7 linked regions of the Homo sapiens genome follow. The protein of the gene in region 7 interacts with the protein of the main gene of each other region in a biochemical or structural test. Each region holds a gene or a part of one and is shown on either strand. Other genes may lie near its edges. The genes, in order: REELD1, LPXN, ASIC3, SHROOM3, PDZRN3, SLC22A12 and GIPC2.

The links.
Region 1: the proteins of GIPC2 (region 7) and REELD1 interact in a test that uses a peptide from one of them, tested with the Homo sapiens proteins (one large-scale study listed by IntAct).
Region 2: the proteins of GIPC2 (region 7) and LPXN interact in a test that uses a peptide from one of them, tested with the Homo sapiens proteins (one large-scale study listed by IntAct).
Region 3: the proteins of GIPC2 (region 7) and ASIC3 interact in a test that uses a peptide from one of them, tested with the Homo sapiens proteins (one large-scale study listed by IntAct).
Region 4: the proteins of GIPC2 (region 7) and SHROOM3 interact in a test that uses a peptide from one of them, tested with the Homo sapiens proteins (one large-scale study listed by IntAct).
Region 5: the proteins of GIPC2 (region 7) and PDZRN3 interact in a test that uses a peptide from one of them, tested with the Homo sapiens proteins (one large-scale study listed by IntAct).
Region 6: the proteins of GIPC2 (region 7) and SLC22A12 interact in a test that uses a peptide from one of them, tested with the Homo sapiens proteins (one large-scale study listed by IntAct).

Annotation. Positions count from the first base shown.
Region 1 is NC_000004.12:146,213,300-146,217,337, forward strand, and holds the start of REELD1 (reelin domain-containing protein 1 precursor), read left to right. Parts: upstream 1-1,238; 5' UTR 1,239-1,395; intron 1,396-1,776; 5' UTR 1,777-1,899; intron 1,900-3,642; 5' UTR 3,643-3,653; coding exon 3,654-3,861; intron 3,862-4,038.
Region 2 is NC_000011.10:58,555,357-58,558,856, reverse strand, and holds part of LPXN (leupaxin), read left to right. Parts: intron 1-3,500. UniProt on the Homo sapiens protein: Transcriptional coactivator for androgen receptor (AR) and serum response factor (SRF). Contributes to the regulation of cell adhesion, spreading and cell migration and acts as a negative regulator in integrin-mediated cell adhesion events.
Region 3 is NC_000007.14:151,047,205-151,051,330, forward strand, and holds the start of ASIC3 (acid-sensing ion channel 3), read left to right. Parts: upstream 1-1,326; 5' UTR 1,327-1,681; coding exon 1,682-2,215; intron 2,216-2,901; coding exon 2,902-3,052; intron 3,053-3,276; coding exon 3,277-3,404; intron 3,405-3,553; coding exon 3,554-3,749; intron 3,750-3,834; coding exon 3,835-3,891; intron 3,892-3,967; coding exon 3,968-4,115; intron 4,116-4,126. UniProt on the Homo sapiens protein: Forms pH-gated heterotrimeric sodium channels that act as postsynaptic excitatory receptors in the nervous system. Upon extracellular acidification, these channels generate a biphasic current with a fast inactivating and a slow sustained phase.
Region 4 is NC_000004.12:76,781,229-76,783,753, reverse strand, and holds the end of SHROOM3 (protein Shroom3), read right to left. Parts: 3' UTR 501-2,525; downstream 1-500. UniProt on the Homo sapiens protein: Controls cell shape changes in the neuroepithelium during neural tube closure. Induces apical constriction in epithelial cells by promoting the apical accumulation of F-actin and myosin II, and probably by bundling stress fibers.
Region 5 is NC_000003.12:73,401,442-73,404,941, forward strand, and holds part of PDZRN3 (E3 ubiquitin-protein ligase PDZRN3), read right to left. Parts: intron 2,955-3,500; coding exon 2,707-2,954; intron 1-2,706. UniProt on the Homo sapiens protein: E3 ubiquitin-protein ligase. Plays an important role in regulating the surface level of MUSK on myotubes. Mediates the ubiquitination of MUSK, promoting its endocytosis and lysosomal degradation. Might contribute to terminal myogenic differentiation.
Region 6 is NC_000011.10:64,594,220-64,597,719, forward strand, and holds part of SLC22A12 (solute carrier family 22 member 12), read left to right. Parts: intron 1-3,500. UniProt on the Homo sapiens protein: Electroneutral antiporter that translocates urate across the apical membrane of proximal tubular cells in exchange for monovalent organic or inorganic anions. Involved in renal reabsorption of urate and helps maintaining blood levels of uric acid.
Region 7 is NC_000001.11:78,122,466-78,125,965, reverse strand, and holds part of GIPC2 (PDZ domain-containing protein GIPC2), read right to left. Parts: intron 86-3,500; coding exon 4-85; intron 1-3.

The sequences.
Region 1 (4,038 bases), on a different chromosome or scaffold from region 7:
TGGGGTGAGAGTAAAAAAAAAAAGGAGAGGAGGGACACTTTTGTCTCTAAGACTGGGATAGGAGCAGAGTGGAGTGGAGAAGAGGTTAGCCACTCTCCTGCTAGGGGCAGAGATCTGTGTCAGGACCCAGTGGAGGGGGTGGGAAGAACCCAGGCCACAGCCTTGCTGAAGACCTGAGCCCCTTTTTGGCATAGAAGCCTTCCAACTAACAGTCTTCAAGTGACCACATGAGCTCTGAAAACTATCATAACAGCAGCCATGGAAGGAATGTATCCTAATTTTCTAGACCTCCCAGAATTTCTCATGACTCAGTGGGAGATTGAGATTGCCTCCAATCCTAGTGGGATAGAAGCTTAGAGAAACCAAATTGAATTTGTTTGCTTTTGTTCTGTGTGTGGGGAATACTGGTATCCTAGGCCAAGGAAGCCCAATTTCCCTTGGTGTTTATAGGATAGATAGTCTCATTTACACTTGCAACAAAAGGCTTAGCAACCTGGTCCCTAAGCCAGTGCCTTGCCTATTCAGTCACTCATAGCTTTAGTTTTTTCTGAGTGGAGACAAGGCCTAACAGTCAGAACATTGCTCTCTCTGCAGCCCCCTACTCCACATCACCCAGGACTATCAATCCTAGGATTCTCTCTTGGACGCCTTGCATTCAAACAGCCACCAAATCCTACCTCCACCTGATCTCCTGATCTCCCAAATCCATTCCTCTCTCTTTTTCTTCATTGTTAATGTTGCAAGCTTCTAGGTGATGCTGGTGTTGCACTCTAGGGACCACACATTGAGGAACACTGATCTATAGGCTCTCTGGTATTATCAGGTGTCTCAGCAGATTCTTAGATGAATGAAAATGTGAACTCCAGCTTTAGTGCAATTGATACGGGAGGTGCCTATGCCACGTGTTATTTTTTTGTACCAAACGTTGCTCTTGGGCTAACGTATCAATTCTATTTCACCAAGAGTAACTTCAGTCCACACTGACTCAAGAAGCCAAGAATGCTGAGATGCATTTCATTCAAACATTCTCCCCTTTGCAGGGAGATCAAGATGGAGGCATCCAGCTTCTGCCAAGGATGTCAGTGCCAGTCCTGTGCAAAACCAGTTCCGGTTCTTTCTAGTTCTTCACGCAGGCTTGAACAATGATGTGACTGTAAACCGTGTGTGTGTGTGTGTGTGTGTGTGTGTGTGTATGTGTGTGCTAATACGATTTAGGTTGGATTTGGACACTGAGGAACAGTTCCTGGAGATGCTGAGGATTAGTGGTAGCAGCTGTTATTCTCCCCATTAGAGGAAAAACTGAAAGGAGAAGAAAATACTTATGTTTAAGGGATGTGTTTGCAACTCTGCGGGAGGAAGCCATTCTATCAAGCCTGAAGAAAACTGTGTTCCTAGGTAAGTGGATGTTTTTATTTATTTATTTTTGTAGAGACAAGGTCTCCCTGTGATGCGCAGGCTGGTTTTGAACTTCTGGCTTCAAGTGATCTTCCTGCCTCGGCCTCCCAAAGTGCTGGGATTACGGGTGTGAGCCACCATGCTCAGCTCCAAGTGGATAGTTTTCAGGGTTCAGGTAGACAAGATGCTAGTGGGAAAGAAGACACAGTGAAACCTAAGGCAGGAGGGTGGGAGGTGGGGCTGTGGCCGTAGTCTGTGAGTCCAGGCACTCACTCCCCTTCCCTTGTAGGCAACTGTGTCTGATCTGCCTTTGGAAAGACCACTTGCCATCAGCAAGGACTTGAGGAGCATTTTCATTTCATTTCTTTCTTTTCTTTTAAGAGACAGGGTCTTGCTCTGTACCCAGGCTGGAGTGTAGTGATGTGATCATAACTCACTGCAGCCTCGACCTCCTGGATTCAAGTGATCCTCCTGCCTCAGCCTCCTGAGCAACTGGAACTATAGGTGCGCACCACCATGCCCAGCATTCAAGGGGCATTTTGTATGTGGCCCTTATGAAAGAAAATGAGAAGAACCCTGAGCCCCCTTGACTGAGAATGTGCTTTTACACAGTTCATCTTCATTATCTCCTAATGTGTCTGAGAAGCTGTAGCCATGGTTCCTTGTAGTATGGAGATGTGTGACTTTGGTGCTTCATAGAAAACAAACTTAGAAAAGAAAGGCATTGTCTGAAGGACTCTTATGTCTAAGAAATTTGAGGTATAGATCATATTCCTGTCTTCTTTTAGCTTGTGAATGTAAAAGGTGGTGTTGTGTGAAGAGACAATGGGAGTGGAGGACACTTGATTATTTGGTTTATGGATTATTTCCTTAGTCTATTGTTCTGATAGCTAGTTTTACTACATTTTCAGGATTTTATTTTCACCTTTTAAAACCAGCTGACTACAGGGGAGGGCATTTTTTTTTTTTTTTTTTTGCCTTGCATTGTTCCTTAGGTCAAAAAATTAGCCAAACTTCTAAAATGCCTGTGTGCAGGACTATAAAAAAAAAAACAGAACTTTTTTTTTTTTTTTTGAGATAGAGTCTCGCTCTTTTGCCCAGGCTGGAGTGCAATGGCATGATCTCAGCTCACTGCAACCTTGGTCTCCCAGGTTCAAGCAATTCTCCTGCCTCAGCCTCCCGAGTAGCTGGGACTATAGGCACATGCCACCACACCCAGCTAATTTTTTGTATTTTAGTAAAGACAGGGTTTCACCGTATTGCCCAGGCTGGTCTTGAACTCCTGTGCTCACGCAATCCACCTGCCTCGGCCTCCCAAAGTGCTAGGATTACAGGCGTGAGCCACCGCACCTGGCCTAAAACAGAACTGTTAAAAAATGCCTGTGATAATCCTAAATATTTATGTAGGCAGATTTTCATCTGCCTTGTTTGCTATCTCTCATTTTATTTTTGTCATCTTCTTTTACATTGCCAAATTTTAATTCTTCCTCTTGATGGGAATTAGAGGTAGTAAACAAAAATAAAATTTACTCTATAAATGCTATTTTATTCAATCATTGTATTCTATTCCTGAGCCAAAATTGTTATCAGTATGTTTAAGAAGTTATAGAATAAATTGAGTATTTCTTTCTCTGCTCATCTTCTTTACTAAAAGTAGTGAAATAGCTAAAAACAGCCAAAGAAAGGGCAAAGAGATATCAAAGCATTGCCAGCTTAACAGTCACTTCTAAATAATTGATAGTTGGTAGATGTTTTGTAGCACTTAACTTGGTAATTTTCAATTGCAACAGAGATAAGATGCTCAGCCAAGCCATCCCATGCCATGCTGCCTGACCATGGTGGTGTATTGAGTGTCTACTTCAGATAATGTATCAGAGGCCACACCGCCTTTGGGTACCAGTCAGCTTGCAAGGAGCTCACGCTAGGATACAAACATTTTCTGGTTTTATTTCTTTGACTCAATAATTAAAGCCTCTCTTTTGAACAACAACAAAAAAAGCAGTCTGGTCTTATGAGAAAATTACAAGAACAGAAGTTTTTAAAAAGGTGTTTGGAAATGAAACACTTCCTATAGCCTGGCATTTCCTTTTGATCTTGGCCTTGAACATTAGCAATCCTGGGAGGCTGCACTAAAAGCATCTCAGGTACAGAGGCAGTGTGGGGTTCAGGTTAGTCACATCCCGAGAAGACTTTATGTCGTTTTCCTAAATAACGTCTGGACTGAAGCTGCTGTTTGTCATGATACAGGAGAGGGCAGGATGAGGATGCAGGCTGCCCTCGTGGGCTGGGCTTGTACCACCCTCTGCCTGGCTTCCTGCTCATCTGCCTTTTCCCATGGTGCCAGCACGGTGGCCTGTGATGACATGCAGCCCAAGCACATCCAAGCCCAGCCTCAGCACCAGGACAGCCACCACATCACCATCCACACCCACAGGACTTCCTATGCACCAGGTGACAAGATTCCAGGTATGTACCAGAGAGGCTTAGAGAGACTCCGAGGAGCCCCAGAGCCCCCATGGACCTTCCAGTTTGTGTTTGTCCCAGTCAGAAGCTTCCTGGACTAAATTTGGCTTAATCCCTTTTTTTTGTTTTTTGTAGAGATGGAGTCTCACTGTGTTGCCCTGGCTGGTCTGAAACTCCTGG
Region 2 (3,500 bases), on a different chromosome or scaffold from region 7:
AAATTGTAAAATATATTCTTCATTTTTCTATTATCTTTACATTTAAAAATATTGATATCTATCTTTAATTTGTCTCAAATTTATTCATGTATTTGGTGTGTTGGGGATCCATATTTATTTTGTACCAAATAGGTTGTTATTCTTTGAGTCGAATAGTCTGTTTTGGATGATTTGAAATGCCCCATTGCTCATATAGGAAGTTCTTTTAGGTGCAGGAGCCTGTTTCTGGGTTTTCTAATCTACTCCTTTGACCTATTTGTTTTTCTTTTTCTTCTTCCTTTCCTTTCTTCTCTTTTTTTTTTTTTTTTTTTTTTTTGACAGGGTCTCATTCTGCTTCTGTTGTCCAGGCTGGCATGCAGTAGTGTGATCACAACTCACTGCAGCCTTGGCCTCCTGGGCCAAAGTGATCCTCCTGCCCCAGCCTCCTGAGTAGCTGAGACGACAGATGTGTGCTACCACATCTGGCTGATTTTTAAATTTTTGTAGAGACAGGGTCTCCCTATGTTGCCCAGGCTGGTCTTAAACTCCTGGGTTCAAGCAGTCCTCCTGCCTCAGCTTCCCAAAGGGATCACAGGTATGAACGATCGCACCCAGCCCTATCTTCTTTACCAACATCATACAAATTTAATTATTGTTACTCTATAAGACACCACATCTATCAAGACAAATCTTCCCTCCTGTTTTTTTTTTTCTTTACAACTTTTAATTTTTATAGAGACCAGGTCTCTCTCATGTTTCCCAGGTTGTTCGCAACTCCAGGTCCCAAGTGATTCTCTTACCTGGACCTCCCAAAGTGCTGGGACCACAGGTGTGAGACACCACACACCCCTCCTATTTTGTTTTTCCAAAATTGTCTTGAGTGTTCTATCCCATAAATGTTAACATCATCTTATTAATTAGCTTGAATAATTATATCAGAATTTTTATTTGAATTACATTGAATTTACAGTTTAGGGGAAACTGACATAATATTTATCTTCATTTATATAGGCTTTCTTTTCTAAAAATAAATTTTATTGTGCATATTTAAGGTGTACAATATTATGTTATGGGTTATGAATAGTTAGTAAAATGGTTACTATAGTGAGGCAAATTAACATATTTATTATCTCACACAGTTACACATTTTTGTTTGTTTGTTTTTGTGGCAAGAACAGCCAAAATTTACTCTTGCAACAGGAATCCTAAATACGATACAATTTCATTACCGATAGTTCTTATGTTGTACATTAGATCTCTAGGCTTGTTCATCTTACATATCTGCTACTTCATATTCTCTAACCTACATGTCCCCATTTTCACCCCCTTTCCTGCCTCTCATCACCAGTGTATCTACATATTTGACCTTTTTAAATGACAAAAGAGGATTCCACCTATAAGTGAGATCATGCAATATGTTTCTTTCTTATTTAACTTGGTATAATGTCCTTCCAATTCATCAATGCTATGACAAATAGCAGAATCTCCTTTTTTTAAGGCTCACTAATATTCTGTTGTGTATGTGTGCATATTTCACAATTTCTTTATTCCATTGGTGTCCATCCATTGATGGACACTTAAGTTGTTTCCACCTCTTGGCTATTGTGAATTGTGAATATTGTGGCAATGAACATACGAGTGCAGAGATCTTTACGAAGTGGTAATTCCATTTATTTTGTGTATGCCCAGAAGAAGGATTCCTGTGTCATGTGGTATTTCTATTTTTAATTCCTTTAGAAACCTGCATATTATTTTCTGTAATGGCTGTAACAATCTACATTCCCACCAACAGTGTATAAAGGTTCTTTTTTCTCCATACCCTGGCCAACATTTGCCATCTTTTGACTTTTTGAGAATAGCCATCTGTTTGTGAGTGGTATCTCATAATAGTTTGATTTGCATTTCCCTGATGATTAATGGTGTTGAATACCTTTTCATATACCTTTTGGCCATTTTTATTTCTTCTTTGGAAAAATATCTATTCAGGTCCTTTGCTCATTGTTTAATTGGATATGTGGATCTTCCTTTATGTCTGCCAATGGTTTTTCTTCATAGAATTCTTACACATTTCTTGTTAAATATATTATTTGATATTTTACAACTTTTGTTAGAATTGTGAACAGGTTCTTTTTTTCGCATTGGATTTTCAAACTGCTTATTGATGATCAATAAGAAAGAGACTGTTTCATTTCATTCTTGTATCTAATCACCACCCTGATCTTTTTTATTCATTCCAATGGTTGTTCAGTCATTTATCTTACATTTTCCTGGGAAATTATTATACCATCTATTTTAAAAGAAAGACTGAGGATGTGCTGCCTTTTTTTCAAATATATAATTCTCTTATTTTACTTTTAAATGTGTTTGATAATGTATTCTAGAATAATGTTGAAGATTGCCAGTGATAATAGGATCTATGTCCAACTTATCTCTTAATTAGATATCTGCTTAATAATTATGAGGCTTGCTATATATTTCTTATGGAAACATTTTATCAGTTTATAGACTTTTTCTTATTTTTCTTGATATTCAACAACAGGAATGGTTGTTAAATGTCTTCCACGGCTTTTTCAGCACATATCATTGTGTTTATAAAGCTTTTCTCCTATTTGTTAATGAATTATATTAATCTTTTTCCTAATTTTGAATTTCAAACTATTTTTGGATAACCAGTATAAACACCACCTAGCCATGACTTGTTAAAATTTTTTATGTTTTTTAAAAAAAACACATTTCAACTGATTTTATTTAACCTTCTCTCTTCACACATGCACATCGTTTTTTCTTTGATTTTAAAAAGTTTCTGTGCTATTTATAGAATGAATTAGGTAATGTTCCATATTTTTCTATGTATTTGGGAATTTTATACAATGATCCCCCAAAAACTGTCAGTTTTTGTTTTATTTCTTGTTTTCTGTTTCACTAATTTATGCATTTATTCCTTCTGTTGAATTATTTTAGATTTTTCTGAGACTCTTGACTTGGAAGTTTTATTTATTTCTGATCTTTCTCACTTTTTAATATCACACTTAAGTCTATTTATATATTTTCTTCTCAATAACATTTAGCTTTCAACTCCCAAAGGCGTGTGTGTGTGTGTGTGTGTGTGCATGTGTGTGAGTGTGTGTGTGTGTGTGTTTTCATTGCTATTTCTAACTGGTTTGAAAATTCAGTTTAATTTTTTTATCCCAAGAATTATTTAGAAGTGCTTTGTTTTTTCTTAAGTGGATAGTTTTTATGATTAATTTGTACTTCTATTCACTCCAATCTAAGAATATGGTCTATATGATGTACTTTTAAAAATTTATTGAGCTTTACTTTGTATCTTCATACATAGTTAATTTTACTAATGTTTATGCAGCTACTTGAATAGAATCTGTATTCTGTTTATTGGGTCCAAAGTTTTATTTATTTATAATTTACTTACAATTATATGAATATGAAATCATCATCATATATATTATCTAAACTTTCTGCACCAGAGATTTGCAAACTTGTTCTGTAAAGAGGCAGATAGTAAG
Region 3 (4,126 bases), on a different chromosome or scaffold from region 7:
CCCTTCACCCGCCCCCTAGAGAAGCAGTGAAACCCCTTGGCTAGTCCAGCTGGAAGAGCTAGACCGCAGGAGCCGCGCCGTCTTCCTAACCTCGCCTCGGCCTTCGCTCCACAGTGGAGAGTGGGAGCCTAGCTGTGCTTGATGCTGAATGCCTGTTTTGAGAGTGTGAGTGGGATCATCTACAGTAAATACTTGCAAAGCATGGCACTGTGGCTCTGGGGAGCTGGTACGCCTGTGCTGTAACCATGGTACTCAGTCCTTCCAAAGTGTTTATTAATCAAGCACCTGTCATGTGCCATTGAGCCCACGATGGGGAATGAGGACAGTCCCTGCCCCCATGAAGCTTGTGTCCTGTTGGGAGGACAGACAGGTGGCCCAGCAGTTGCAGCATGGTGTGTGCACACGTTTGGCTGGTGGAACCATGTTTCTACCACTCATGGTCAAAAAAAGCCCACCAAAGTCCTGGGAGTTCACATCTGTGTGATGATACGGCAACATTGTTTGTAATGGAAAGACTGGACACCCCCAGTGCCCATCAGTGGGGGAGTCATTAAATAAACTATGGTATGTGCACATAATGGGTGGTATGCAGCCCTTTGGAAAAATGTAGGTTTTCCAGGTCCTGGATATAGCAGCGTAAGATGGGAAATCACAGAATACCCATGTTGTGCCTGAGATGGCAGGTGGGGTACCCGTGGTACCCGGGAGGGTGGCAGGTGGGGCACCCATGTTCTACCTGGGGTGGCAGGTGAGCCCATAACCATTGTAGAGGCCAACATCCTCAGAGGCCTGAGTGTGGGGAGGTAGGCTTTGACTCCCTAGGGAGAGAGGGACACTTAGGAAACAGACGGGCCCTGGAAGTGGGACATGAAGAGTGCCCTGGCCATCCAGTGTAGGCTGAGATGCTAGGGGCACAGAAAGAAGAGATCTGCTGATGCCAGCCTTCCAACCATTTCCCAGCTTGGCCAAGAGCCAGCTCTGGTATTCGTGAAGGAACAGATCCTGGGTGAAGCTAGAGGGAAGGCCGCAGAGGCAAAAGGAGAGAGGAGCTAGGCCAGGGGTCAGCGACTGACCCTCGCGGCCAGTGTACAGGGGTTGCAACTGGGAGCCTAGGGGGCCCCAAGGCATCTCCAGGCCCAATCTACCTCTGGGCTTTTCTCAAGCTCTCCCTAGGATTACTGCGGTTTCCTCCTGGCGCCTCTCGTCTTGGACAGCCATGCCCCCCTCCATGCTGCACTAATGGCTCAGCCTGGGGCCCTAGGGACCTCTCCTACCCCCCAGACTGCTCTGTCGGCCCCCTTTCCCCCCTACTGCTGAAACCCAATCCTCTGCAGCAGCGCCGGCTCAGCACCGCCGGCTCAGCACCGCTCCGCAGCCCCTGCCTGCCACGGTCAGCTACGTCCCACCTGGTCTGCTGCGGAGTCCCCAGCCCAGTGCCTAGCCCAGTGGAGCCACCGCCTGTTCCTCGGGAAGGAACAGTGGGACCTGACCGGCCAGATCACCTCCTCCAATCCTGCCAGGCTAGTGCCTCCCTGCCTTCCAACCTTGGCTGTCTCCCACCCTCTCTTCTCCTCTCCTTGCCTGGCCTCCTGAATCCTATCTTAGCCTCCTTAGCCCCCTGACTGACTCTCTCTCGCTTCTTCCAAGCCTCTGTAGCTGGTTCCGCTCCTGGGTTCTGGCCATGAAGCCCACCTCAGGCCCAGAGGAGGCCCGGCGGCCAGCCTCGGACATCCGCGTGTTCGCCAGCAACTGCTCGATGCACGGGCTGGGCCACGTCTTCGGGCCAGGCAGCCTGAGCCTGCGCCGGGGGATGTGGGCAGCGGCCGTGGTCCTGTCAGTGGCCACCTTCCTCTACCAGGTGGCTGAGAGGGTGCGCTACTACAGGGAGTTCCACCACCAGACTGCCCTGGATGAGCGAGAAAGCCACCGGCTCATCTTCCCGGCTGTCACCCTGTGCAACATCAACCCACTGCGCCGCTCGCGCCTAACGCCCAACGACCTGCACTGGGCTGGGTCTGCGCTGCTGGGCCTGGATCCCGCAGAGCACGCCGCCTTCCTGCGCGCCCTGGGCCGGCCCCCTGCACCGCCCGGCTTCATGCCCAGTCCCACCTTTGACATGGCGCAACTCTATGCCCGTGCTGGGCACTCCCTGGATGACATGCTGCTGGACTGTCGCTTCCGTGGCCAACCTTGTGGGCCTGAGAACTTCACCACGGTGAGCTGACCTCCCTACCTATCCTGCCAGGGACCCAGAGAGCCGACCAGTCCCTGCCCAGCACCCACAATTCCCTAGCCAGCACAGGCTCCCCCAAAGCCAGGGGACCTCTTCCTTCCTACCAGCCATGGACTCCCCACCCCCCAGTGCCACTCCGTGCAGCCCAGGAAGCTGTCCTCCTTGGGGCTTTCTCTGTCTCCCAGCCCGAGGGGAGCATGTGAGGCCACACTGACCCCGGCTGGCCCTAGGCCTGAGGTCTGGCCCAGGGAGGCCCTGCTCCTGGGGCTGGGGGTCCTCCATGGTGGGACCATTCTGGGGCAGAAGACCCCTATCTCTGCCAGGAGGTGGGGGGGGCTTGCTTTCCCTCTGCCTTTTCAACATACTGCCAGCCCCGGAGGACAGCCACAGGGGCCCATTTCCTTTTCCTGCAGTTCCCAGAGAAACACAGAAAAACCTGTAGGCTGTGCCCTGGGCTTTGGTGGGGATTGGCGGGGTGGAGGAGCTGAGTTGATGGGCTCCCAAGAGCGTCCTGCAACATGTGCCCACTGGAGCGTGGGGCTGGGGGCATTGAGATGCGGGCTTCAGTATTCAAAGAAGAGACGCAAACATACCATGAGGTGGGGAGAGGTCCCATGACCATGTGCCTGCCTGGGGGAGATGGCCATCACCCTGTCTGCCCGCCCCAGATCTTCACCCGGATGGGAAAGTGCTACACATTTAACTCTGGCGCTGATGGGGCAGAGCTGCTCACCACTACTAGGGGTGGCATGGGCAATGGGCTGGACATCATGCTGGACGTGCAGCAGGAGGAATATCTACCTGTGTGGAGGGACAATGGTAGGGAGCACACAAATGAGGCTGGGGGAGGGCACGGATGGAGTGCAAAAGGCTAGGGGAAGGAGAGGAGGAGAGGAGGTGTCAGGGTGTTCCCCCAGAACCTGTGAAAGGGGCTGGGCTGGCTCATCCCAGTCCTGGGGAGAGGGGCTGCAGTGAGAGGTCTTGTCTGGTTGGGCAGGAGACCTGACCACACAGGTCAGGCCTCACAGGTCCCTCCCCGACAGAGGAGACCCCGTTTGAGGTGGGGATCCGAGTGCAGATCCACAGCCAGGAGGAGCCGCCCATCATCGATCAGCTGGGCTTGGGGGTGTCCCCGGGCTACCAGACCTTTGTTTCTTGCCAGCAGCAGCAGGTACCCTTCCGTGTGCCTCCACACCTACTACTTCAAGCCCACACCACCTCAGACCCTAAACCCTCAGCTCCTCAGACCTGTCTAGGGGCCTCTCCCCAGCTGGCCTCTCACGCTCTCCGGGAAGCCTCCTTAACCCTGTCCCCCCACAGCTGAGCTTCCTGCCACCGCCCTGGGGCGATTGCAGTTCAGCATCTCTGAACCCCAACTATGAGCCAGAGCCCTCTGATCCCCTAGGCTCCCCCAGCCCCAGCCCCAGCCCTCCCTATACCCTTATGGGGTGTCGCCTGGCCTGCGAAACCCGCTACGTGGCTCGGAAGTGCGGCTGCCGAATGGTGTACATGCCAGGTGAGGGGCTGGGGTTTTCGTCCCATGGCGGGCAGGGCCCAGGGAGCTGAGGCTGCTTCTAAAGCCATCTCCCCGGTACCCGCAGGCGACGTGCCAGTGTGCAGCCCCCAGCAGTACAAGAACTGTGCCCACCCGGCCATAGGTAAGGGCGAGCCTCCCCCACCTCCCGTCCGCCCCGCTCCGCCCGCGGGCGTCTGACGCGGCCCGGTGGCCCGCAGATGCCATGCTTCGCAAGGACTCGTGCGCCTGCCCCAACCCGTGCGCCAGCACGCGCTACGCCAAGGAGCTCTCCATGGTGCGGATCCCGAGCCGCGCCGCCGCGCGCTTCCTGGCCCGGAAGCTCAACCGCAGCGAGGCCTACATCGCGTGAGCTGCGC
Region 4 (2,525 bases), on a different chromosome or scaffold from region 7:
ATAATTTATAGAATGAAGTAGGAATCAATGAGCCAGTTTTTTCATTCACAACTTTCTTCTTGCCTAATTTTGATTTTAGAGTTTCAAAATTGGGTGACAGCTGCTTTCATTTCTCAAAGAAAATGAACACAGTCTTGTTTCATTAGCTAAATTGTCAAATCCACACCAAGGAGAGGTTCTAACTCATATGTAGGATAACATTTGTGATGAAGCAACAGGAATCTGATTCCCACTAAATCAGTAAAGTTCCCACTGAAAAGGCCAGTTGATTAATTTCAGTCAGGGCAGAACTTAAAATTACTGGCAATGTGTGATAAAACTGATTCCTTTTGAGGAAAAATAATTAGTGCAATTAAATCTGAATAAGTGCATAACTTGTTTAAAACAGATCTAAAAAAGAGTAAACAGGGAACAAAATCTGTATCACAACCTTGGGGATTATATAAAAGTAGTGGAGACAGTATAAACTTATATAGCTAATAGAATAAATATGACAGGACTTTCAACTTCTGAGGTTATTTTTATTTTTAAATTTAACTTCAATTTCTGTTTATTTAAATTTTAAAAATTATTCAGATTATTAAATTCATGTTAGTCTTATTGTGATCATAACAGTAGGAACTGTACAGATGATTGGTAGTGGCTCTCAAATGTTAAAATACATCAGAATAACATGGGAAACCTGCTGAAATGCAGTTTCCAGCAGACTTGGTTTTGTCATAGCAATTGGTATTTTTAACAAGCATTCCAAGGATTCTGATGCAGATCGTATCCTGACCACACTTTGAGAAACCATTATTTAGTTTCTGAATGAGCTCCCCATTAAGAAATGTGAAGTTTTATTTAAAAATTAATAAGACAACCCTTTCTGATATTAAAATGGTCTTTATCATTTTATCCTATGCATCCCAAAGAGTTAAGGCAGCAGGAAATACTTTGTTCCCGATAATATATTCCTGTGTAGAAAAGCCCCTTCACATTCACTTGACCACTTTTTATACCTTGTAGGAAATGAAGTTATTTCTGGCTGTAGTTATTCCTTTTTCTAATAGTAAGGTGAATAAAATTCATGTTGTTCTAAAAGGAAAATAATAACTCCAACCTAACAATGAAGCCAGCACTACCATGGACAATTAAACTGAAGAGAAGTAAATTTGGAACCACATAAGAATAAAAAGCCAACATTTCCTTGGGTATCCAGAGACCCAGTATCTTAATAAGAGATGCCTGAATAACATACAAGTTTAAAGGTAGAGCTTAAAGCATATATTTACCATTTAAACTCATGAATTATTTTAGATGAGATATTAACAGTGGAGGAATAGGAAAACTGGGATGTCCCAGGTTGTTTCTCCTTTATAGCTCCCTCAAAGGACCTCAGTTAAGCCCACACTCCTCACCTTAAAAGACAGCCACTGATTCTTAGGGGTGGACCCAAACTTGTTAATCTTCTAGTCTGGAAACCAGCTGTGCAAAACAAACCCTAAAATGTTCCCATAGAGCAAAGGAAAAGATGTTTGGTTTCGACAGCATCTGGTCTCATAGAGAAACTCAGGCACTTTCACTGTGGATCCTCCCTTCATTCTTTGGGGTTAAGTGGCCACCGCAAGAAACAAAACAGCATGAGAAATGGCTGAGTCAACCAACATGTAGTGACATGCCCAGGAACTTCTCAAGTGGCCCAGGAAGTGGAGGCCTCCTGATTTTCTCGCAGGACATTGTCCTTTCCTGGAACCTTGCGGGTGGCTGGAGTATCTGCATTTGGAGTATTGCAAGATTATCTCACCTGAGTTCTGACCAGAAGTGTATCTCCAAAATTATCACATCCACAAAGACAATTATTGACTGTGAGCAAACATTCTCAGTGACATCACGCGTATTCTGAAACCCTGACCAACAACATGCTCCTTACTGTTCTCATGGTCTTGGCAAAGGATACTGTTGGGAGAAAGAAGAATGGTTTCTACTGTAAATGAGTTTTTAAAAATAGTGGGAGAAGAATGCAAAATAGGAAAGGGATAAATACATAGATTTCTAGCTAAACGCATTTAAAAGGAAACTTTGAAAATTTGGTTAGTGATTTCTTTAAAGTACAGAGGTCAAGTCCTATTACAATAAATATCACATCCACCTAAAAATTAGATTTCAAAGTCTCACTTGGTGCCTTACCCATTTCACATAACAGAACAAAGTTTCCACATAATGAAAGAATGGACACAATCCTAGGAGTGTCACAAGCTTTCAGATGTTTGTGGCATGCCAAGCAGCATTGCCTGTTACTGTGCTGTGGGAGTCAATTACTTTTATGTCTATAAATTAGAAAAGTGGCTGGGTGAAGTGGCTCATGCCTGTAATCCCAGCACTTCTGGGACCAAAGCGGAAGGATCCCTTGAGCCCAGGAGTTTGAAACCAGCCTGGGCAACATAGCGAGACCCCCGTCTCTATAAAAAATCAAAAAATTAGCCAAGCATAGTGGTGCACACCTGTGGTCCCAGCTACTTGGGAGGCTGAGATGGGAGGATGGC
Region 5 (3,500 bases), on a different chromosome or scaffold from region 7:
AGTTCAAAAGGCTGAGAATGAAACTGTTCTGCTGTTACCTAGGACCGTGTCTTTTTGAATGTTACCCACAATAATATGTTTGATATCACAAACGTACAGTATGCACTTACATGGTTGAAATGCACATACAAACATGTAGGCATAAGTGCATCTGTGTGTATATGTTTACATATAATGAGTACACACACATTCACTCTGCTAGGAGACTGGAAGCTTATGTTTCCCTAGGACAACATATGCAAAACACAGTCCACAGAACTCACGACATCTTTGGAAACGTCATTAATGCAACCTCAAGGAGCCAAGGCAGTGGGAATCATAACATACTCCATCAGCAGCTTTGAAAGGAGCTTAACAGTCCACGGTGCCAGATGCAAAGCTTCAGCCTCTGATTGTTGGCTGGGGACCCAAACCTTCACGTCCTCAAAGGTCAGCACAGCAATCAATGGGCTCTAGTCTTCCCTCCCAGGCACTTAGTTTTGAAACAACAGATCAGACATGAGTGGCCATTCAAACAAGGGCTGGCTTTCAATTTTCTGGACCCATCAGGCAAATATACTGCCTGCACTTAAAGGGCTTTTAGTACTGAGGATACTGTTGGAAGGTCTGGGCTTTCAAGCATCAACTTAACATTCCCCATTCAGTCCCGACACACGCTCTTGCTGTTGTCTGACCTTGCAGCCAGAACCTGAAGAGGCCTGACCTCTGGACTCTTCTGACATTTCTCAAGTCGCCCCCAGGGGATAAGTCATGTCATGTTAACTAGACCTAAGAGGAAATTACAGGTTTAGCTTCTAAAAGGCCCATCACTGTGACAGGTCAACATTTAAGAGTCAGAAGTAGCCTTAAAGGCTTCATCAATAATGTGAGGCAGTTTGGTCTGTAACGTCAGATAAATGGTCTGGATCATCATACTCAGTGAATCAGCCAGTTGTTCCAGAGGATGGAATGGGTCACTACAGGGTACTGTGGTTCAGAGCTGGGAGTCGGGGTCTGACTGACCTGCCTTTCCATCAGCTCAGTGGAACCTGGTGAGTCTGCAGTTCCTCATCTGTATAAAGGGACAGTCATGAGAAATGAAGGAGATAGATAATAGTTCTTTGCACATGTGCACACTGTGAGTGAATGTGAGACGGATGCCCTGTCCTCTGTCTTTATGCTACCAGCTGCTGCCAAACCTACTCTGTCAAGCCTGGGGAATTAGTCCTGGGTTCCAATGACAGCTAGCCACTAAGACCAAGGGATGAAGGGCAAGCCTTTATCCAGAACTTGACTGAACCATAGGAAACATGTGCTCACTCCAGCTACTGAGTTACTAGTAGGAATCCAACAGGTATTACCCAGTGGATTCTCCTGTAAGAGGTGAAAATGCCCTTTGAAATAATGTATCAAGTCAATGATCTGATCCGAGATGGAGCTGAGATGAGAAAACACAGGGGCGACCCTAACATCAGCTGGAGAGGCTGTGTCCTCAGATGTGCAAAGTCACACATGAAAAGCTTTTTTTTTTTTTTTTTTTTGAGACGGAGTCTCGCTCTGTTGCCCAGGCTGGAGTGCAGTGGCATGATCTCGGCTCACTGCAAGCTCCGCCTCCCGGGTTCACGCCATTCTCCTGCCTCAGCCTCCCGAGTAGCTGGGACTACAGGTGACCGCCACCACACCTGGCTAATTGTTTTTTGTATTTTTAGTAGAGACGGGGTTTCACCGTGTTAACCAGGATGGTCTCAATCTCCTGAACTTGTGATCCACCTGCCTCGGCCTCCCGAAGTGCTGGGATTACAGGTGTGAGCCACCACGCCTGGCCTTGAAAAGCTATGTTAAAAGCTATGTCGAACTGGACACCTTGGGGGCCAGCAGTCTATCACAGAAAGTGTCTTGCTCTTCATTTTTTCCTGAATATTTTACATCACCCACTAAATTAACGGTGATCGCTGGTACCATTTACTGAGTGCTTACCATATGCCCCATGAGCACTTCCCACATATTGTTTCATTTAATCCTTCAATGATAAGAGATTGATACTGTTATCTCCATTTTAATATAGGAAAAATACAGCCCCACAAAACAAAGTAAGTTACCCAAGTTCCACAACTAGAAATCACTTTGAGCATCAGGTTTGTCTGACTTGAAGCCTCTGAAGGACTCTTTATCGCTGGCAGAAATAAGTTGAGAGAAGAGGTGTGTGTAAAGAAATCCATGTGGCGTGCTGAGTTGCAGCTGTTATTTAATTGGTTGATGCAGTACTTAGATGAGGCATGTGCGGGCTTATTACATGGATCCAGGCTTGAAATGAGACCCAAGAAAGCAGAAGGCACAACCTCCAGGGCTCTCTTGACACACACAACTTACTTTTTTGTCTATTTAAAAGAATGATCAACATTCCCTAGTAATAACTGCAGGATCTTCAAATTACCATTTGGGGTGATTACATTTTATTCTGAAACAACTTTTACAACATTTGTAAGTAATTCTGTTCTTAGGATATAATTTGAATAAGTCCGCTCCAGGGTTATAATAAAGTAATTAATATGTCGGAGCGGTTTTGAGCAGGATTCGATTTATTGCCTCTATAAACAATAAAGTTAAACATGGGCAACTTGGAGGAAAACTATAGGGTGCATTAATTTTTTTCACCACATAGAAGAGAAAGAAACCAACTTGGAAATACTTCTTAATGCATTAGGGGTTCAAGATTAGGTTACTTACTCCTCTGGCAAGAGATAGGGATCCAGCACGGGTGGGCTGGGAGAGGACATCTTAGTGAGGGCCATGATATGTTCAAAGGTGATGTCGGTTTGGGTTCCCGTGTCCACCAGCTGAGACTCTGATGGAGGCGTGAACATTTTGGTCCTTGGTGTTCTTCTCAACACCTGCACCACTATGGGCTCCTTGGCTGTCTTGAAAGCTTCCACAGCCTGGTCATGAGTTGCTCTGGATAAGTCTCTGCCGTTGACCTGTGGAAAAATATTTAGGGTGGGACAAGGTTAGAATAAAGCAGAAAACGGAAGGACAAATACATGAATTGCCTGCTTTCATGTGTAAGCAGCTAAAAGAAAGAAGCAGGTGGTGGTGTCAGAGAACTTCAGTTCTCTGTGTTTAGGTTTCCCGAAGAATGCCTGGTGGAAAGAGAGTGAGTTTGGAGGTATTCAGATCTGGCATGCAATAATAAATCTCACAGCGGGAAGGCTTAGCTTCCCCGTGGAATGTCTTTAACACAATTTCATCACTTGCTAATCTTGCCTGTGAAAGAAAAGGCCAGCCTCAGGCTCCGAGCCTTTATCAGGCAATAATAGCTAACTAGAAATTCATTACATTGTTATGTTTTAATAGTGTGTATTTTTCCAGTTTGTGTCAGATGATACCAGTCTTCCCTTCATGGAAGTAATATGAAGTTTCCTCTTAATAATCCTTTCGCTCTTTAAAAAGTCCATTGAAAATATTAAGTAAATGACAGTTCAGGCCATAGCGGCATATGGCAAGTTATTATGGAGAAGGAATTC
Region 6 (3,500 bases), on a different chromosome or scaffold from region 7:
GCACACACAGCGCACAGCCGCAGTCTGCTTCATGGGCTGACAGAATCAATGCTTGTGTCTGTCTGCTGGAAGACAGGGACCAGGATCCACTCATCAGAGGGGAGTCCACAGTCCCCACAGAGGGCCGGCATGTGTGGGAGGTTAGGAAATGTCAGCACTGCCCTGAAACAAATCAGGCGTGGCCCTTGCCGAGCACCTGGCACATAGTAGGTGCTAAATAAATATTTGTTGAATGGATGAATTGTTAGGTAAGTAGAAATAGATAGATAGGTAGGTAGGTAGGTAGGTAGGTAGGTAGGTAGGTAGATAGATAGAGACAGATAAATAAATGGGTTGACAGATGTGTGGATTGGATGAGTGGATGGGTGAGTTGGTGGATAGATGGATTGGATTGTATAGATGAATTGAATGGATGGTTGAATGGATGGATAGATGGATGGATGGTTGGAATAGATGGATGGACGGATGGATGGATGGATGGATGGATGGATGGATGGATGGATGGACGGACAGACGGACGGACGGTTGGATGGATGGATGGATGGATGGATGAATGGATAGTTGGAATAAATGGATGGATGGATGAATGGATGGATGGATGGGTGGATGGACGGACGGATGGATGGACAGATGGAATGGATGGATGGATGGTTGGAATGGATGGATGGATGGAATGGATGGATGGATGGAATGGATGGATGGATTGTTGAATGGATGGTTGGATGGATGGATGGATGGATGGTTGGAATAGATGGATGGATGGATGGGTGGATGGATGGATGGATGGATGGATGGATGGATGGTTGGAATAGATGGATGGATGGATGGGTGGATGGATGGATGGATGGATGGATGGATAGATGGATAGATGGAAAGGATGGATGGATGGATGGATGGATGGATGGATGGATGGATGGTTGAATGGATGGTTGAATGGATGGTTGGATGGATGGATGGATGGATGGATGGACGGATGGATGGATGTTTGGAATAGATGGATGGATGGATGGATGGATGGATGGATGGATGGATGGAATGGATGGATGGATGGATGGATGGTTGAATGGATGGTTGGATGGATGGATGGATGGATGGATGGATGGATGGATGGATGGTTGAATGGATGGTTGAATGGATGGATGGATGGATGGATGGATGGATGGATGGATGGATGGACGGACGGATGGATGGATGGATGTTTGGAATAGATGGATGGATGGATGATGGATGGATGGAATGGATGGATGTTTGGAATAGATGGATGGATGGATGGAATGGATGGATGGATGGTTGGAATGAATGGATGGATGGATGGTTGGAATGGATGGATGGATGGATGGTTGGAATGGATGGATGGATGGAATGGAAGGAGGGATGGATGGATGGATGGTTGAATGGATGGATAGATGGATGGATGGTTGAATGGGTGGAATGAAAGGATGGATGGTTGTAATAGATGGATGGATGGATGGTTGGAATAGATGGATGGATGGATGGATGGTTGGAATAGACGGATGGATGGATGGTTGGAATAGATGGATGGATGGATGGTTGGAATGGATGAATGGATGGATGGATAGATGATTGGAATAGATGGATGGATGGACGGTTGAATGGATGGATGGATGGATGGATGGATAGTTGAATGGATGGAATGGATGGATGGATGGTTGGAATAGATGAATGGATAGATGGTTGGAAAAGATGGATGGATGGATGGATGGATGGATGGATGGATGGATGGATGGAATGGATGGATGGTTGGAATAGATGGAATGGATGGATGGATGGATGGATGGATGGAATGGATGGATGGTTGGAATAGATGGAATGGATAGATGGATGGATGGATGGATGGTTTGATGGTTGAATGGATGGATGGATGGAATGGATGGATGAATGGAATTGATGGATGGATGGGATGGATGGATGGATTGATGGATAGTTGGAATAGATGGAATGGATGGATGGATGGATGGTCGAATGGATAGTTGAATGGATGGATGCATGGATGGATGGATGGATGGAATGGATGGATGGATGGATGGATGGATGGATGGATGGATGGATGGCTGAATGGATGGTTGAATGGATGGTTGAATGGATGGATGGATGGATGGGTGGATGGATGGATGAATGGATGGATGGATGGATGGAATGGATGGATGGATGGTTGGATGGATGGTTGAATGGATGGATAGGTGGATTAATTGGATGAACTGGATGGATGAATGGATAGATGGATGGACGGAGGCCATTTGAGGGCAGGGCTGAGCCTGGATCATTCATACACAGGCCCTGCACTTAGTAGTTGTTTGGTCATTGGGACCACTGTAGAAAGGAGCACAGCAGAGGCCCAGTGGTGAGCAGGTGCCCGCACCCACACTAAGAAGAAGGCTGAGTCCACAAATCTCTCCCACCCAACAGCTTGGAGTGGAGTAACAATTTGCAGCCACTCCTCAGAGCAGGAGAAAATTACATCTCATACAGTGGCTCCACAAGGAGGCAATCGTGTCCGACAAGAGCCTTCTGGGATGGCAGCTTGACTCCCAACACCAAGAGGGTAGAGAGTGGAAGGTAAAGGTCAGTGATAAAAATTCCAAGGCACCCCTCCTGGTTCTCATGCTGATGCAGGGCCACAGAGCTGCACCCCCCTTTCCTTGGTAGACGTGCTCCCACAGGGCTGAAGAAGTGCCCATTCATTCATTCATTACTTCATTCATTCAACAAATAACTACTGAGCACCTACCATGTGCCAGGCGCTGGCTGACACCAGCTATGAGCAGATATGTGGTCTCTGCCCACGTGGAGCTCATAGGGAATCCCACACATCGTGGCCTCACAAACTGTGCTTAGGGCTTGACGAACAACCTGGGGTATTGACATCTGAGAATGGGACCCCGCTTTCTCCCTCCCAGTCACTTACAACACATTCCAGTCAGCTTTCTCCCTCTTCTCCGCCCAAACTGCCCTTCCCAGGGTCACCCACAATGATCTGGCCACCATCACTTGTGGTACCTGCTATGTGGCGGGCACAGTCCACACTCTCTCCCTCAGGCAGCCTCACCCCTGCCTGCAGCCCCAGCTCCCTCCAAATACTGCAGACCCCAAATCTCCACTTGGTCCTGCCTCCCCCACTGACCTCCAGCCTTACACCTCCAACTGCCCACGTGACGGTTCCATTATAGGTGTCTCATCCCCACACACATCTCCTTAGACCTCTCCTCCCCAAGTCTTCCCCAGCGTGGGGAGCAGCCCCTGAACTCACCAGAGTCACAGTGGCCATGACGCCTCTCTCTCCCTCACCATCCCCCCACCAAGTCCACTGGGTCACCAGGCTTCATCAGCTCTATCTCTAATATGCACCTGGAATCTCCACTTCTCCCCTCTGTTCTGCAAATCCCTAAGGAGCTCAGGGCCCCGGTGGGTGTAGGGCAGGTGGCCCCACCCTGGCTGCTCATAGGGGACAACACGTCTGGCTGAAGGACCTGCAGGAGCCA
Region 7 (3,500 bases):
TACCTAAATCAATATCTCGAATTCCCATGTACAACTCAAGAACATCATCAATCTTTTCAATTGCCTTTGCTTTGGTTTCAGAAGGCTTTATCAAAAAAGAGAGAAATAAGATATTATACAACAAAATCTCTTGATTGTCAGGGCATACACAAGAGAAAGCCTGATGTGGAGCCGGTTCATAATTGTGTATTTCAGCTAATTTTAATGGAAATAGATCTAGAATGTGCTCTGTAACTAAATACAAATCAATACAGTAAATACTTATTTCTAGTGTCAGCACTAAGTGTTACGGATTCAAAAAAGAAAAGCCAGGAACACAATCCCCAAGTAGCTAACAATCTAGAAGAGGAAACAGATGTGAAAATAAATAACATGTAACAGTTTTTAAAGGATATAAAAGGCACAGAAGCATCACAGGGGAGGAAGCAAATTTATATCTCTAACAGTCATGGAAGACTTTAGAAAGAAGGTGACTTGGCTGAGCACAGTGGCTCACACCTGTAATCCCAGCACTTTGGAAGGCCACGGTGGGAGAGTTGCTTCAGCCTAGGAGTTCAAGACCAGCCCAGGCAACATGGTGAGACTCCATCTCTACAAAAAAAATTAATTAATTAATTAAAATAATTAGCTGGGTGTGGTAGCACATGCTTGTAATCCCAGACACTTGGGAGGCTGAAACAGGAGGATCACTTGAACCTGAGAGGTCTAGACAAGCCTGGGCAACATGGCAAGATTCTATCTCTACTAATTAATTAATTTAATTTAAAAGTAACCAGGTGTGGTGGTATGCACCTTTAGTCCCAGCCACTCAGGAGGCTAAAGTGGGAAGATCACTTGAGCCCAGGATGACGAGGCTGTAGTGAGCCATAATTCTGCCACTGCCCTCCAACCCGGCAACAGGACAAGACCCTGTCTCAGAGAAAAAGAAGGATGTCTTAAGAACTGTGGCGGGGTTTTTTTGTCTTGCTTTGTTTTGTTTTGTTTTGTTTGAGACAGAGTCTCATTCTGTTGCCCAGGCTGAAGTGCAGTGGTGTGATCTCAGCTCACTGCAACCTCTGCCTCCCAAGTAGCTGGGATTACAGGCGTGCGCCACCATGCCCAGCTAATTTTTTGTATTTTTTTAGTAGAGACGGGGTTTCACCATGTTGGCCAGGCTGGTCTCCAATTCCTGGACTCAAGTGATCCGCCCACCTCAGCCTCCTAAAGTGCTGGAATTACAGGCATGAGCCATCACGCCCAGCCAAGAACTGTGTTTTCAATGATGAAGAGGAGATAAGCAGGAGAGGACACTTCAAGTAGGATGCAATAGATAGGCAAAGTCTAAGTAAGGTCACAGAGTCATGTTAGAGGGATGCCAGAAGTCCCATGTAGCTGGAGAACACAGTGACAAATATGACTAGATCTTGAGGAGTCCTGTGTACCATGAAAAGGACTTTGGTCTTTATGGTGCAGGCCAGGGTCTCCAAACGTTTGATGGCTCATCCCAATAGTAAAACTTTTCTGAACAAATACCCTTATTGTGTATTTTTAACTTTATTGTATGTATTGCTTATCAATTACACATGTATTACCATATTAATATATTGTATAGATTATAAAAATACACCAAAAAAGGAAATTTTATAAGAATGAGATGATAAAATAATACTTTTTAAATCATTTTTGTGTTATGTATTAATGGTACCAAAACATTTTTGTTCTTCCCGAAATGATTACTAAACATTTCAGTAAAAATATTATTTTAAATTTTTGGTTTAATATTTGGTAAATTCTGCTCAGTTTATTTCAATACTTGGCTTTAAATGGCATCATAGCTGAAAATGGAATTGCCCAAAGATGTTAACTACTCAACTATACATGCAAATGTAGAATTCATTATTTAGATTATAAGAATTTCATGTTACTTTCAATACTGTTATAAATATATGTTGTTTTGTAGTCTCAAATTTTATTAAAATCATGCATTTTATAGCAAATAAAAATCTATTTCCTTGAAGATATTAATACAACTTTCTCACATTTTTATTTACAAGAACTAAACCTTAAAAACAATAACAGACAATATATTGCTCTTGCCTTCATTACAATGTATCTTGAATTGTCTGTATAAAGCAACAGGCTATGCAAATTAACAGGTATTAACCTTTATATCTATCCAGGCACGTTTTAAGTTACGGTGACAAGTGTCAGTACTCCTCATACCCAAATGGCCACCAATATTTTACCATTCTAATATTTCCTATTTGCTACGGAACAGATCTGGATCTATCACCTCTTCTCCATCCACATTCTGTTTGCCAGTGTTTAGTCCTCATCTTTTCTGATTTGCAGAGGTTTCCTATTTTGTCTCCCTGCCTTTGGTCTTCACCCTCTCAAATCCAAGCTGCTCAACAACCCATACCCTGGAACCAAGGGATTTTTCTAAAACACAAAACTGATTGTGTTACTCCCCTCATAATTCTTAAATGGCTCCCTCATTATCCACAAGGCCCTTCATATCCTAACCCCAGCCTATGCCTCTAGCCTCATCACCCCTACCTAACCAGTACTTCCAGCACCCCACACTCCAATCTCATGAACAGCTTACAGGTCCCCAAAACCCATTATTGTTCCATGCCTAGAACACTCTTCTTCCCCATTTTGAACTCACTCACTAATTTCTTCCGGAGAGAAACACTTCCTGACCCTTTTTTTTTTTTTTTTTTTGAGATGGAGTCTCACTCTGTCACCCAGGCTGGAGTGCAATGGCATAATCTCGGCTCGCTGCAACCTCCGCCTCCTGGGCTCAAGTGATTCTCCTGCCTCAGCCTCCCAAGTAGCTGGGATTACAGGTGCCCAGCACCATGCCCAGCTAATTTTTATGTTTTTAGTAGAGATGGGGTTTCATCACATTGGCCAGGCTAGTCTCGAACTCCTGACCTCAGGTAACCCACCCACATCAGTCTTCCAAAGTTCTGGGATTACAGGCGTGAGCTACTGCACCCAGCCTTCTGACCTCCTTTCTTTCCCCAATCCCTGTCAATGGCTGATCAGCCCCTTCTTTGTGACACTGTGTATCCTGCACCTGCTTCCATTAACCCTATCCCACTGGGTTGTAATAGCTTCTTTTCATGCTTCTCTCCTTTTAGAAGAGAAACAGGGTTTTTATTCTTCTTTGTATCACCAGCACTTAGACTGTGCCTGTCTCAGCAAGCACATATTGAATAAAGTATGAGGTTATGCAAGTGGAGAATTGATATGGTTTGGCTCTGTGTGCCCACCCAAATCCCATCTTGAATTGCAATCCCCACGTGTCAAGGGAGGGACCTGGTGGGAGGTGATTGCATCATGAGGTGGTTTCCCCCAGGCTGTTCTCGTGATAGTGAGGGAGTTCTCACAAGATCTCATGGTTTCAAAAGCGACAGTTTCTCCTGCACACTCACTCTCTCCTGCCACCATGTAAGACGTGCCTTGCTTCCCCTTCACCTTCTGCCATGACTGTAAGTTTCTTGAGGTCTCCC